Homo sapiens: one gene and its partners. The protein of the gene in region 1 purifies or fractionates together with the protein of each later gene. This does not show direct contact. Each region holds a gene or a part of one and is shown in the gene's direction. Other genes may lie near its edges.

Evidence for each region. The genes of interacting proteins can lie anywhere in the genome.
Region 2: the proteins of RFPL3 (region 1) and DAB2IP purify together in Homo sapiens (affinity purification with mass spectrometry; 3 studies listed by BioGRID and IntAct, with this or other methods). This does not show direct contact.
Region 3: the proteins of RFPL3 (region 1) and TLK2 purify together in Homo sapiens (affinity purification with mass spectrometry; 3 studies listed by BioGRID and IntAct, with this or other methods). This does not show direct contact.

What each region holds. Positions count from the first base shown.
Region 1 is NC_000022.11:32,356,449-32,360,666, forward strand, and holds the start of RFPL3 (ret finger protein-like 3), read left to right. Parts: upstream 1-1,418; 5' UTR 1,419-1,623; coding exon 1,624-1,996; intron 1,997-3,457; exon of another isoform or gene 3,458-3,803; coding exon 3,804-4,218.
Region 2 is NC_000009.12:121,766,634-121,770,133, forward strand, and holds part of DAB2IP (disabled homolog 2-interacting protein), read left to right. Parts: coding exon 1-97; intron 98-1,798; coding exon 1,799-2,000; intron 2,001-3,500. UniProt on the Homo sapiens protein: Functions as a scaffold protein implicated in the regulation of a large spectrum of both general and specialized signaling pathways.
Region 3 is NC_000017.11:62,481,825-62,485,324, forward strand, and holds part of TLK2 (serine/threonine-protein kinase tousled-like 2), read left to right. Parts: intron 1-3,500. UniProt on the Homo sapiens protein: Serine/threonine-protein kinase involved in the process of chromatin assembly and probably also DNA replication, transcription, repair, and chromosome segregation. Phosphorylates the chromatin assembly factors ASF1A and ASF1B.

The sequences.
Region 1 (4,218 bases):
GCAAGTAATCCCCCCTTACACACACTAAGAACCCAGGGTGAGTGTCAAATTATATGTTAGCTAAGAAATGAAGAGAGGGAGCAGGATTTCTGGTTGACGGTGAGGATATTTATTAAGGGTTTACTGGTACAAGGAGAGGGGCTGGATGATTTGGGGTGGGAGGGGATCTCTGTTCTGGGATCCTGCAGCTCCAGGCCCCCATGGGTGGGGTGAGGGTCAGGGACCTAAGAACATTCTTCAGGGGCCACTGTCTTCTCCACAGTGCTCTCTTGTGTGTGACCTTACAGCTGTAGCTGCTGCAGGACCTCCACTGGTCGGGTGTCAGGCTCAGGTCGCTTCTGGCTGTGTGCTTGTTGCTCTGTTTGGAGGTCTTGGTGACTTCCGTACCCTGGGTGACAGGGGTGCTGTTTGCCTTCCAGGCCACCGTCACAGCTCCCGGGTAGAAGCCACTCATGAGACACAGCAGTGTGGCCTTTTGGCTTGGAGCTCCTCAGAGGAGGACGGGAACAGAGTGACCAAGGGGGTGGCCTTGGGCTGGCCTGTGGGTGGGCGAGCGGCAGGAGGTCAGCATCCTGTTGTGTACCTGGGAGCCCCCTGACCTCAGTGTATGAAGAGGGGTCAGGCCCCCTCAGTGCCAGTGTAGGACCCCTCAGACATGGTCCACAGTGTCTCAGAAGGGTGTGACATGAGGTTCCTAAAACAACTCTCTGTCATTCAGGGAACCTCCGAGCCTGTCCCCTGCCCACCAGTGGTGGCAGTTAATTTGGTATTCATTTCCAAGGCTGGAGAAGGATGTAATTTTTTTTCTTTTCTTTTCTTTTGGTGAGACAGGGTCTTACTGTGTTGTCCAGGTTGGAGTGACCTGGCGTGGTCTCTGCTCACTGCTAATTTTTGTATTGTTTGTAGAGATGAGGTCTTCCTGTGTTGTCCAGACTCGTCTCAAATTCCTGGGCTCAAGGGATCTTCCTGCCTTGGCCTCGCAAAGTGCTGGGATTACAGATGTGAGCTACTGCATCCAGCCCCCTTTTTTTTTTTTGAGATGGTGTCTCACTCTGTTGCCCAGGCCGGAGTGCAATGGCACAATCTTGGCTCAGTGCAACTTCTGCCTCCCAGGTTCAAGCGATTCTCCTGCCAAAGCCTCCCAAGTATCTGGGATTACAGGCGTGTGCCACCACGCCTGGCTAATTCTTTTGTATTTTCAGTAGAGATGGGGTTTCACCCATCAGGCTGGTCTCGAACTTTTGATGACCTCAGATGATCCACCCACCTTGGCCTCCCGAAGTGCTGGGATTACAGGCATGAGCCATCGTGCCCAGCCTCTCAGCTCCTAATTCTTATGTTCATCAATCAGTCTCTTGCTGGGGTTCCCCTAGGAGGTGGTGAAATGACCCCAGCTCGCTGTTCCTCACATGGGTGCTGCCACGTCACTGGCTCAGGCTCAGCTGCTGGGTCACCAGGAGAATGGACCCTTCCTCCACCTCAGCTCAGAGCACAGTGATGATTCGTGACTTTCCCAATAGAACTTCAAATCTCTGAGGACGGGGGGTGGGGGGATGTGCTTGAGTGTTTGTACTCATGGTCTTGTTCTCGGAGTGACAAAGCTGGAACACAATACCTCTATGCATGAAAAGGTTGTCACTTGTCACAACTAACAGGCTTTCACCTCAAGGAAATTTTCTTCCCTTGTGTACTTTTCCCCTGGCAGTGGACATGGCTGCACTCTTCCAAGAAGCAAGCAGCTGTCCCGTCTGCTCAGACTATCTGGAAAAACCAATGTCCCTGGAGTGTGGATGCACCGTCTGCCTCAAGTGCATCAATTCGCTGCAGAAGGAGCCCCATGGGGAGGATCTGCTTTGCTGTTGCTGTTCCATGGTCTCTCAGAGGAACAAAATCAGGCCCAATCGGCAGCTAGAGAGGCTGGTTTCCCACATCAAGGAACTGGAGCCCAAGCTGAAGAAGATTCTACAGATGAACCCAAGGATGCGGAAGTTCCAAGGTAAGGAATCTGTATACCCTGCCCCCTTCCCAAGACCAGACCAGGAAAAATCATCTGTGCAGTTGGCCCCTCATTCCACATGGGGATTAGCTGCTGTCTGGCACCTAAAATTGAGATGCTTCATCATCACATTCTCAGCCCTGACAACACATAGAATCACCTGGTGATGTCAAAAACAAAAACAAACAAAAACCCGATGTCTATGTCATGGGTTAGACAAGGGATTCTCTAAACTTAGTGTGCTCAGATTACCTGGGGATCTTGTTAAAATGCAGATGCTGAACTGGGAAGTCTCAGGATTGATCCCGCTGGCTTGGGGACTTTGCTGAGTAGCAAAAACATAGAGCAACTGAATTTGAATTTCTCTCTAGCAAAGGTTCCCATGAATCTGACATTAAGATGGGCCTGGTATTTCTAATGCACAGTGAATATTGGCACCCATTGTACCAAACAACCTCACCCCAGGGTTGAGAAGAGTTGGGAATGGAGCACCTATGGTGTTTGTTTCTGTGAGTGGGGAGAGTTGCAGATATTGGTCTCCTCATCCATGCGCCATGGGCTCCAACAGTGGTCCTGGCTACAGAAAATACTATCACTCTCCATAACTCTGGGGAAAAGGGACATTTAAATGAAAAGGTTATGGTCAGCCTGGGCAAAGAATTACACCTATAAATGGTGGTGGGCCCCTATAATGTCCCTGACACTGGTAGCTTCTGCCCTGACACCCATGATCTCTACTCATCCATCTACCCATACCTGACTGTCTCTCTGCTGAACTATGGAGGACAGAGATTCACCCTGTCCAAGTCATGTTTGGAACCCTCTTCCTCCTTCCTTGTCCATGTCCATTCCCTAATTCACCATTAAATAGCAATCAATCCCTAGTCTTGACTAGGGTAGTCTTACTGTGATCTATAAAATCTATATTAGTGATCATATCAGTTTTTTGACTTGAAGGATAATATATTTTGTAGATTTTTTTTTTTCAGAATGTTCTGGACAATTAATTTTCTCTAGGCCAGATCACACTGCCTCCTCCATGAGAATTGGCGGCTTCACCTGTCAGTCACATACCCAATGCCTTAAATTATTGACCTTTGTATTTTCTGCCCTTATTCTCTACAATCAGTCAGTTATGACAGACAACTTTCAAATACCTTTCTCTTGGCTCCAAAATTTACCATTGTTTTGCTTAAGGTCTCACCTTCCATGTAGGATAGAAAACATTCTTTCATCTAAAAGGTCCCCCTCCTCCACCTGGCCTTAGAGCCTCCTAATGTCCAGGACCAGCATCTCTGTCATCACATTGTCAGCTGCAGAGATACCCTATCTGCTGTCAGAACTGTGCACAATTAATTTGTTTACAAACATGGAAAACAAAAGCCTGGAATCATGCTCTATATACTGAATTGGAGCAATAAAATGTGGAAGCAGAAACATATTTAATATTGACCACTTGCATTGTCTTAATTATCATTTATTTGTTCACACATCAAGGTGGTAGAAAGGGGGGCATGGTGTCTGCCTTCAGAGACCCTCCACTCTAAATGAAGAAAAGTTCAGTGAAGCAAACACGTGACGTAAAGTAAAATAAGAATTGCTACTGTGAATAAGAGTCACGTATTGCCACAAAGCATACCTATGAAAATTTGAAATAGGGAAGTTTCCTCATGAAAAGTTTTGATTTTGGAGGAAGAAACAGAATTAAAGAAACTAAAGTCAGGAGATATTTGGGCCTTTGAAGTAGAAGAGAGGCATGGGGTTGGCTTCTGTCCACTTGCTGAGCAACTTGTTTTCCTTTTCACAGTGGATATGACCTTGGATGCCGACACAGCCAACAACTTCCTCCTCATTTCTGACGACCTCAGGAGCGTCCGAAGTGGGCTCATCACACAGAATCGGCAAGACCTTGCCGAGAGATTTGACGTGTCCGTTTGCATCCTGGGCTCCCCTCGCTTTACCTGTGGCCGCCACTACTGGGAGGTGGACGTGGGAACAAGCACAGAATGGGACCTGGGAGTCTGCAGAGAATCTGTTCACTGCAAAGGGAAGATCCAGCTGACCACAGAGCTTGGATTCTGGACTGTGAGTTTGAGGGATGGAAGCCGCCTCTCTGCCAGCACGGTGCCGCTGACTTTCCTCTTAGTAGACCGCAAGTTACAGCGAGTGGGGATTTTTCTGGATATGGGCATGCAGAACGTTTCCTTTTTTGATGCTGAAAG
Region 2 (3,500 bases), on another chromosome or scaffold:
CACTCTTCAACCTGCTGCAGGAGTACCCTGATGACCGCACTGCCCGCACCCTCACCCTCATCGCCAAGGTCACCCAGAACCTGGCCAACTTTGCCAAGTGAGTGCCTCCTCCCTCACCAGGCAGAGTTGGGCAGGGCTGGTGTCCACAGGGCAGGCCCTGGGGGTGTTTCTGCCCCCAAGCTGAGCAGAGACCATAAACAGGCCCTGGTTTTGTCCCTGTCATCCTCAGTCCTTCTCCTTCCCGCTTTTTAAAAAATAAAATCTCCACACCCTGTCCTTCTACTCAAGGTATATGTCATTTTGGTATGTTTCTTAATTTTTAAAGGTGACGACATGAGACATTTTTTTCCTTCTGCTTTTTTGAATTAATGTATTATTATAAGGATTCTCACATATCCCTTAACATTCATTAAGCCCTGTTTTGAAATAAATGACTAATATTCCTCCAAGGGGGACTGGCCCATATTTCCTTAATCCATTCCCTGTGCTTGGGCACTTGGGTTGGGCACCACCATCCTGGTGTCAGGCTATCAGGATGTCTTTGCTGATAAAGCACTATTGGTGTTTTTGGCTGCATCCTTAGAGCAAGTGGGCAGAAGTAGAAGGGCTGGGTCGTCTCACTGTTGTTCATTCTCAAAACATAGATTGAGCCCCATCCTGGGGCCATCTGTGTGCTGGGCTCTGACGGCACCAAGATGAATCAGTCCTGGTGGCGCTCAGCACTTCAGCCAGGGAGACGTGTGGAATGAGCAGGAGAGCAGTGATAGACACACACGAGCCTCTTAGGAGGGCTCTCAGCTTGTTGGGAGAGGAGACAGGAAAGCCTCCAGGGTGACATGATCCCCCAACTGCATGTCAGGGTGAGGCGTTCATTGTCTCAAGAGGAGCAGAGGCTGGGCATCCCAGGGAGGGCCATGCACTGTGCCAGGTCAGGAGAAGCGGGCGATGAGACCTAAGAGGACAGCAGGGACCTGAAGGCCAGACAGGGCTGTGGGAGCCACCAGAGGGTTTTAAACAAGGGAGAGGATGGCCTTCCTCTGTTCTGGATCCTGAAAAGCTCACCCTGACAGCAGTGGGCAGATGGGTTGGAGGGAGCAGGATGGTAGCCAGGAGACGTGAAAGGAGAGCATAGCTGTGGTTCCAGCAACAATAGCAGAAAATTCGCAGGGAGGGGAGCGGGTACAGGAGGCAGTGGCTGCAAGGGACAAGGTTAGGGGTGATTAGAAGGCAAAATCAGTGGGCCGTGCCATTTGGGAATGAGGAAGAGGGAGGAGTTGACAGCTGCCAGAGATTCTGTCTCAGGTGTATCTGTATGGGTAGTGGGGTCTCCACTTAGGGTAGGGAGCTCAGGAGGAGGGCATGGGTTTGGGTGTTGATGATGACTTCAGGTGTGGCAGGCTGAGTAGGAGGGACTCCCAGGGGTGGTGCCTGCAGATATATTAATACATGCCTGAAAGCTCATTGGGAGACCTGGGTTGAGCAGGGATTGAGCATCATCTGCATACCAGGGCAGTGAAACTTGGAGGAAAAGCCGAAGGACACTGTTAACAGGCAGTGTATGGGGGACACAGAACATTCCAGGTCCTGAGATAAAAGGTTCAGAAAAGGATCGCTGGACTTACCATGAGCAAGGAGGGCCCTGGTGACCTGGGTCAGAGCATATTCAGCTGACTTGGGGAGTGAATGGAGTGGGAGCCTGCCATAGTGGGGAAAGCGGGTGGTGGTGTCCCAGTGGAGGGAGTTCCTGGGCAGGGCCTGCCTGGGCCCAGTAGTGCTCACCCAACTGCCCTCTCTCCAGATTTGGCAGCAAGGAGGAATACATGTCCTTCATGAACCAGTTCCTAGAGCATGAGTGGACCAACATGCAGCGCTTCCTGCTGGAGATCTCCAACCCCGAGACCCTCTCCAATACAGCCGGCTTCGAGGGCTACATCGACCTGGGCCGCGAGCTCTCCAGCCTGCACTCACTGCTCTGGGAGGCCGTCAGCCAGCTGGAGCAGGTGCCTGTTGCCGTGGGGCGGAGGTGGGGCCAAAAGCTGCCATCAGGCTTTTAGTGTTCCCCCTTCCAGAGTAACCATGGAGGGCAGAGAGTTTGCCCAAGTGGCATGATCAGGCCAGGTCCTGTCAGAACACACTGGGGATCTGTGGGCCCCATTTTCTCTGTGGGCAAATGCTATGTTCACTCAGCAGTATCTGCCAAGGCTGCCCCACTCTGGGTACTAGAGCTGGGGTGTTCCGCATGCACTCAGCCTTTAGTGGACAAGCGCCACTGTGCTGCCTGCCAGAGCATGTGAGAAATAGAATTGGATCGTGAATCCGCCTGTATGAAGAAGATGACTCAAGACCCTGTACCTCCACTTGTCCAGCAGGAAGTCGAAAACCTTTCTAGGATTGCCCTTGACCATCAGTTGACAAGGTTACTCCCTAGACACCTCTGACACTGCTGCAGTCACCTGAAGTGAGCCCTCCCTAGCCCGAGACTTCACTGACCCCCAGCCTCAGCCCACACAGTGAGCAACTAGTTCTTGGACTTAAGGGCTGGGTCTACCAGGAACTACTTCCCGAATATCTGTTGCTTTCTAGGGCTCCAAGGGACCACCTTACTTTTGTAAGGTGCTGAAACTGGCCTGGAAGGCCCTTCATGCCTCCTGGTCCCATTCCCTAGAGGTGACCGCTCAGAGCACTGGTATGCAGCCTTCTGGACACGATCTGTGCATGTGTAAGCGCACACACACATGCAGGCGCACACACATAGAGCTCTTTTCCTTCTTCAGTTTGTTTTAAAGCAAGAACATACTGTGTATGCTGCTGTGTGCATTTCTTACCACTGTGTTGTGGGCCTCTTTGCTTGTCAGTGCAATCTCCACCACCCCCAGGGACTTTTTAATGACTGCATTGTATGAATGCTATTTATTTCACCAGTCCCCTATTGATGGACACTTAGGTTAGTCCTGACTTTTCACTAGAAATAGGTCCTGTTGCAATCAAAGGCCATCATTTTTGCTCATTTGTATCCACTTGCCTTTGGCTGTGAGAGACACAGGAGGGAGAAATGGAAATGAGGGCTGAGACCCTACATTCCACCTGTTCCAGTCCCTGCACTGCAGCCAACACTAGTCACTGTCACTGCCACCACTTACCTTTCCCCTGTGCTGTCCACGTATCTGCACAACCAGGCAGGAAGAATGGAAGGTGATCAGTATTGTCACATCGGTGATAGGGTGCAACAGGGATTTGAAACTCAACTGTTTGCCTCTCAATTGCGTGCTCTATTGCCTGCATGAGTTTTCACACTTTGTTTTCTCACAGAGACCTCTGTGGAAGCTTGTGCATAAACAGGTGAAGGCAGTGTCCCCAAAGCCTAGAATCCTCTGCCCCTTAAGTTCTCTAAAGCGTGCCAGCAAGGTTCAGATGGGTTCAGGCACTGCCTTCTGCCTGACCAGCACCTGAGGGTGCCTGCAGTGTGCTTGGACCATCTCCACTGGGGCTCAGGTGCCAAG
Region 3 (3,500 bases), on another chromosome or scaffold:
ACAATGTGTAAAATGTTTGATTTTAATACAGTATGCAAAGTATATTTACGATATTTTATTTAAAAGCTTTATTGGTCCAAGATCATATTACTTGGGCTTGAGATGTGTGAACGTATGAGCTACTGAATTTTTTTTTTTGAGACAGAGTTTTCCTCTTGTCGCCGAGGCTGGAGTGCAATGGCGTGATCTCGGCTCACTGCAGCCTCCACCTCCTGGGTTCAGGTGATGATTCTCCTGCCTCAGCCTCCTGAGTAGCTGGGATTACAGGTGCCCGCCACCACGCCCAGCTGATTTTTGTATTTTTAGTAGAGATGGGGTTTCACCATGTTGGCCAGGCTGGTCTCGAACTCCTGACCTCAGGTGATCCACCTGCCTCAGCCTCCCAAAGTGCTGGGATCACAGGCAGGAGCCACTGTGCCTGGCTGAGCTTTTGATCTTTAACCAGTGTGATACAACATTTGTTTCTGTGCTTTTCAAGAAATCCTGTCTCATGGTAACCTGGGTGTTGATCTCGTGCTTTAGTTAGTAGCTTCTCCAAGGAGAAGGCGTGTTGAGGTTTAGTTGGAAAAATGGGCTTCTTTGATGGGTCTCACAGTTTTGGTGAGCCGGGATAGCTTGATAGGGTTTTGTTTTTTTTTTTTTTGAGTCAGAGCCTTGCTCTGTCACCCAGGCTGGAGTGCAGTGGCACAATCTGGGCTCACTGCAACCTCTGCCTCCTGGGTTCAAGCGATTCTCTTGCCTCAGCATCCTGAGTAGCTGGGATTACAGGCATGCACCACCATGCCTGGTTAATTTTTTTTATTTTTAGTAGAGACAGGGTTTCTCCATGTTGGCCAGGCTGGGTCTCGAACTCCTGACCTCCAGTGATCTGCCTGTCTTGGTGTTCCAAAGTGCTAGGATTACAGGCATGAGCCACCACGCCCAACCAGCTTGATAGTTTTTGTTTATTCAACAAATATTGAGCACCTGCTGTATGCTAGGCATTGTGCAAGGTGTTAGGGCTGATGCTTGAGCACAGTACCTCCACATCTGCAGTATGGGGAGAGAGAGATGATACCGTGATGAGATCTGTATTAGAGCTGTGACAAGGTGCTGTGGGAACACAGGATTTGTTACATATTCTTAATTTCTTTGGCCACTTAAACAGTTTACTTTTGTGGCACTTTAGAGTGGCTGTGCCCCTGGACGTTGTATACTGAAGTTACATTTACAAATGTAAACTCTCTGATCTAGGTGAAGTAGCTTCAAATAGAAGTGAGCAATATATTTGAATACTAAATTGATCTCTAAATGACCTCTGATGTGTCTTTTTAACTTGAAGATTGAGCATAAGGCTAATGTCCAGATCTGTCTGTTTAAATGGTCCCCCCACCCCCGCCTCCCGTAAGTCAGTAAGTTTGTATTCAAATTTTACATAGTTAAGCTCACTGATCTTTGGATTAGGGTTGTTGTTCTGTTTTTAGGTTCGTGATGGCTGTATTCAAGTATACTTTTGATGGAGTAGGGCATAAGTGATAAGAATGAGTGACATTCAACATGTTGCTGTCTAGACCCAACTTAAAGTCATGTAACTAAGGTATCAGAAAACTTTAATACAGTAACCTATCTGTTTAATAGGAAATTCTACCTTTAACATAGAAAGAAGTTCTCTGTACAGAAAAAGAAATTTACCTATTTCCAGTTTTTTTGTTTGTTTTTGAGAGGGTCTCACTCTCTAGCCTAGGCTGGAGTGCAGTGGCACGATCTCGGCTCACCTCAACCTCCATCTCCCAGTCTCAAGCAATTCTCCTGCCTCAGCCTATAGATAGCTGGGATTACAGGCGTGCGCCACTACCACCCTGTTAATTTTTGTATTTTTAGTAGAGATGGGGTTTTACCATGTTGGACAGGTTGGTCTTGAACTCCTGACCTCAAATGATCCACCTGCCTCTGCCTCCCAGAGTGTTGGGATTACAGGCATGAGCCACTGCACCCAGCTTTATTTCCAGTTGTTTTTATTCCATTAGTTGTTTTTTTTTTGAGACAGAGTTTTGCTCTGTCAACCAGGCTGGAGTGCAGTAGCACAATCTCGGCGCACTGCAATCTCTGCCTCCCGGGTTCAAGCTATTCTCCTGCCTCAGCCTCCTGAGTAGCTGGGACTATAGGCACCTGCTACCATGCCCAGCTAATTTTTGTATTTTTAGTAGATGGGGTTTCACCATATTGGCCAGGCTGATCTCGAACTCCCGACCTTGTGATGTGCCTGCCTCGGCCTCCCAAAGTGCTGGGATTATAGGTGTGAGCCACTGTGCCCAGCTTAAGTAGTCGTATGTTACTTTGATATTTCCAGTCACGGTAAGTATATTGATTACAATGAATTTGTTATTTGAGGACTAGCAGGAGAGTATTTTTTTTTTCCATAACAAAGAAACTTGAAGAAAAAAATTAATTCTGTAGTTTGCAGAGCCGGGAAAAGAAAATCTCCATTTCGTATGACTTCTTTTTTTTTTGAGACAGAGATTCACTCTTGTTGCCCAGGCTGGAGTGCAGTGGCGCGATCTCAGCTCACTGCAACCTCCGCTTCCTGGGTTCAAGCAATTCTCGTGCCTCAGCCTCCCGAGTAGCTGGGATTACAGGCACGTGCCACCATACCCGGCTAATTTTTTGTATTTTTAGTAGAGATGGAGTTTCACCGTGTTGGCCAGGCTGGTCTCGAAATCCTGACCTCAGGTGATCCACCCGCCTCAGCCTCCCGAAGTGCTGGGATTATAGGTGTGAGCCATCGCGCCCAGCCTTTGTATTACTTCTTTTACCAGTAAGACATCGTACCTCTCAGACTATTGATTTGAAATGGGGGTGTGGAGGGGATGATGATACTGGGAGAAAAGGGTGCTTTTGGAAAAACTCCTCTCCCTGGCTTTGAATTCTCATTTTGGATCATTATTTCCCAATAAGAATATCACTGTGTTAGGGCCAGGCACGGTGGCTCACGCCTGTAATCCCAGCACTTTGGGAGGCTAAAGCAGGCAGATCACGAGGTCAGGAGATCGAGACCATCCTGGCTAACACGGTGAAACCCCATCTCTATTAAAAAATACAAAAAATTAGCTGAGCTTGGTGGTGGGTGCCTGTAATCCCAGCTACCTGGGAGGCTGAGGCAGGAGAATGGCTGAGCCCGGGAGGCGGGGCTTGCAGTGAGCCTGGGCGACAGAGCAAGGCTCCGTCTCAAAAAACAAAACAAAACAAAAAAAGAATATCACTGTGTTGATGACAGCTTTGTTTTTCAAAGATCAAAAAAGATTTCAGCCCCTGCAGCTCCAAATAAGAGAGCAGAGTGACTTCCCTGTGATGGTGCCATCTAGTGGGACTGGTTCAGCCTCTTGGGCTGTCTCTTGAATTTCTCCTAACTATTCATAACATTTTTCAGTACTTTTTGATGTCCATAGAAGGAAGAAAGTCAGTGCCACTGTGGATTCTTTCCTAGTGGACAAGAGTGTTACAAGTAGCTACAGCCTTTGAAC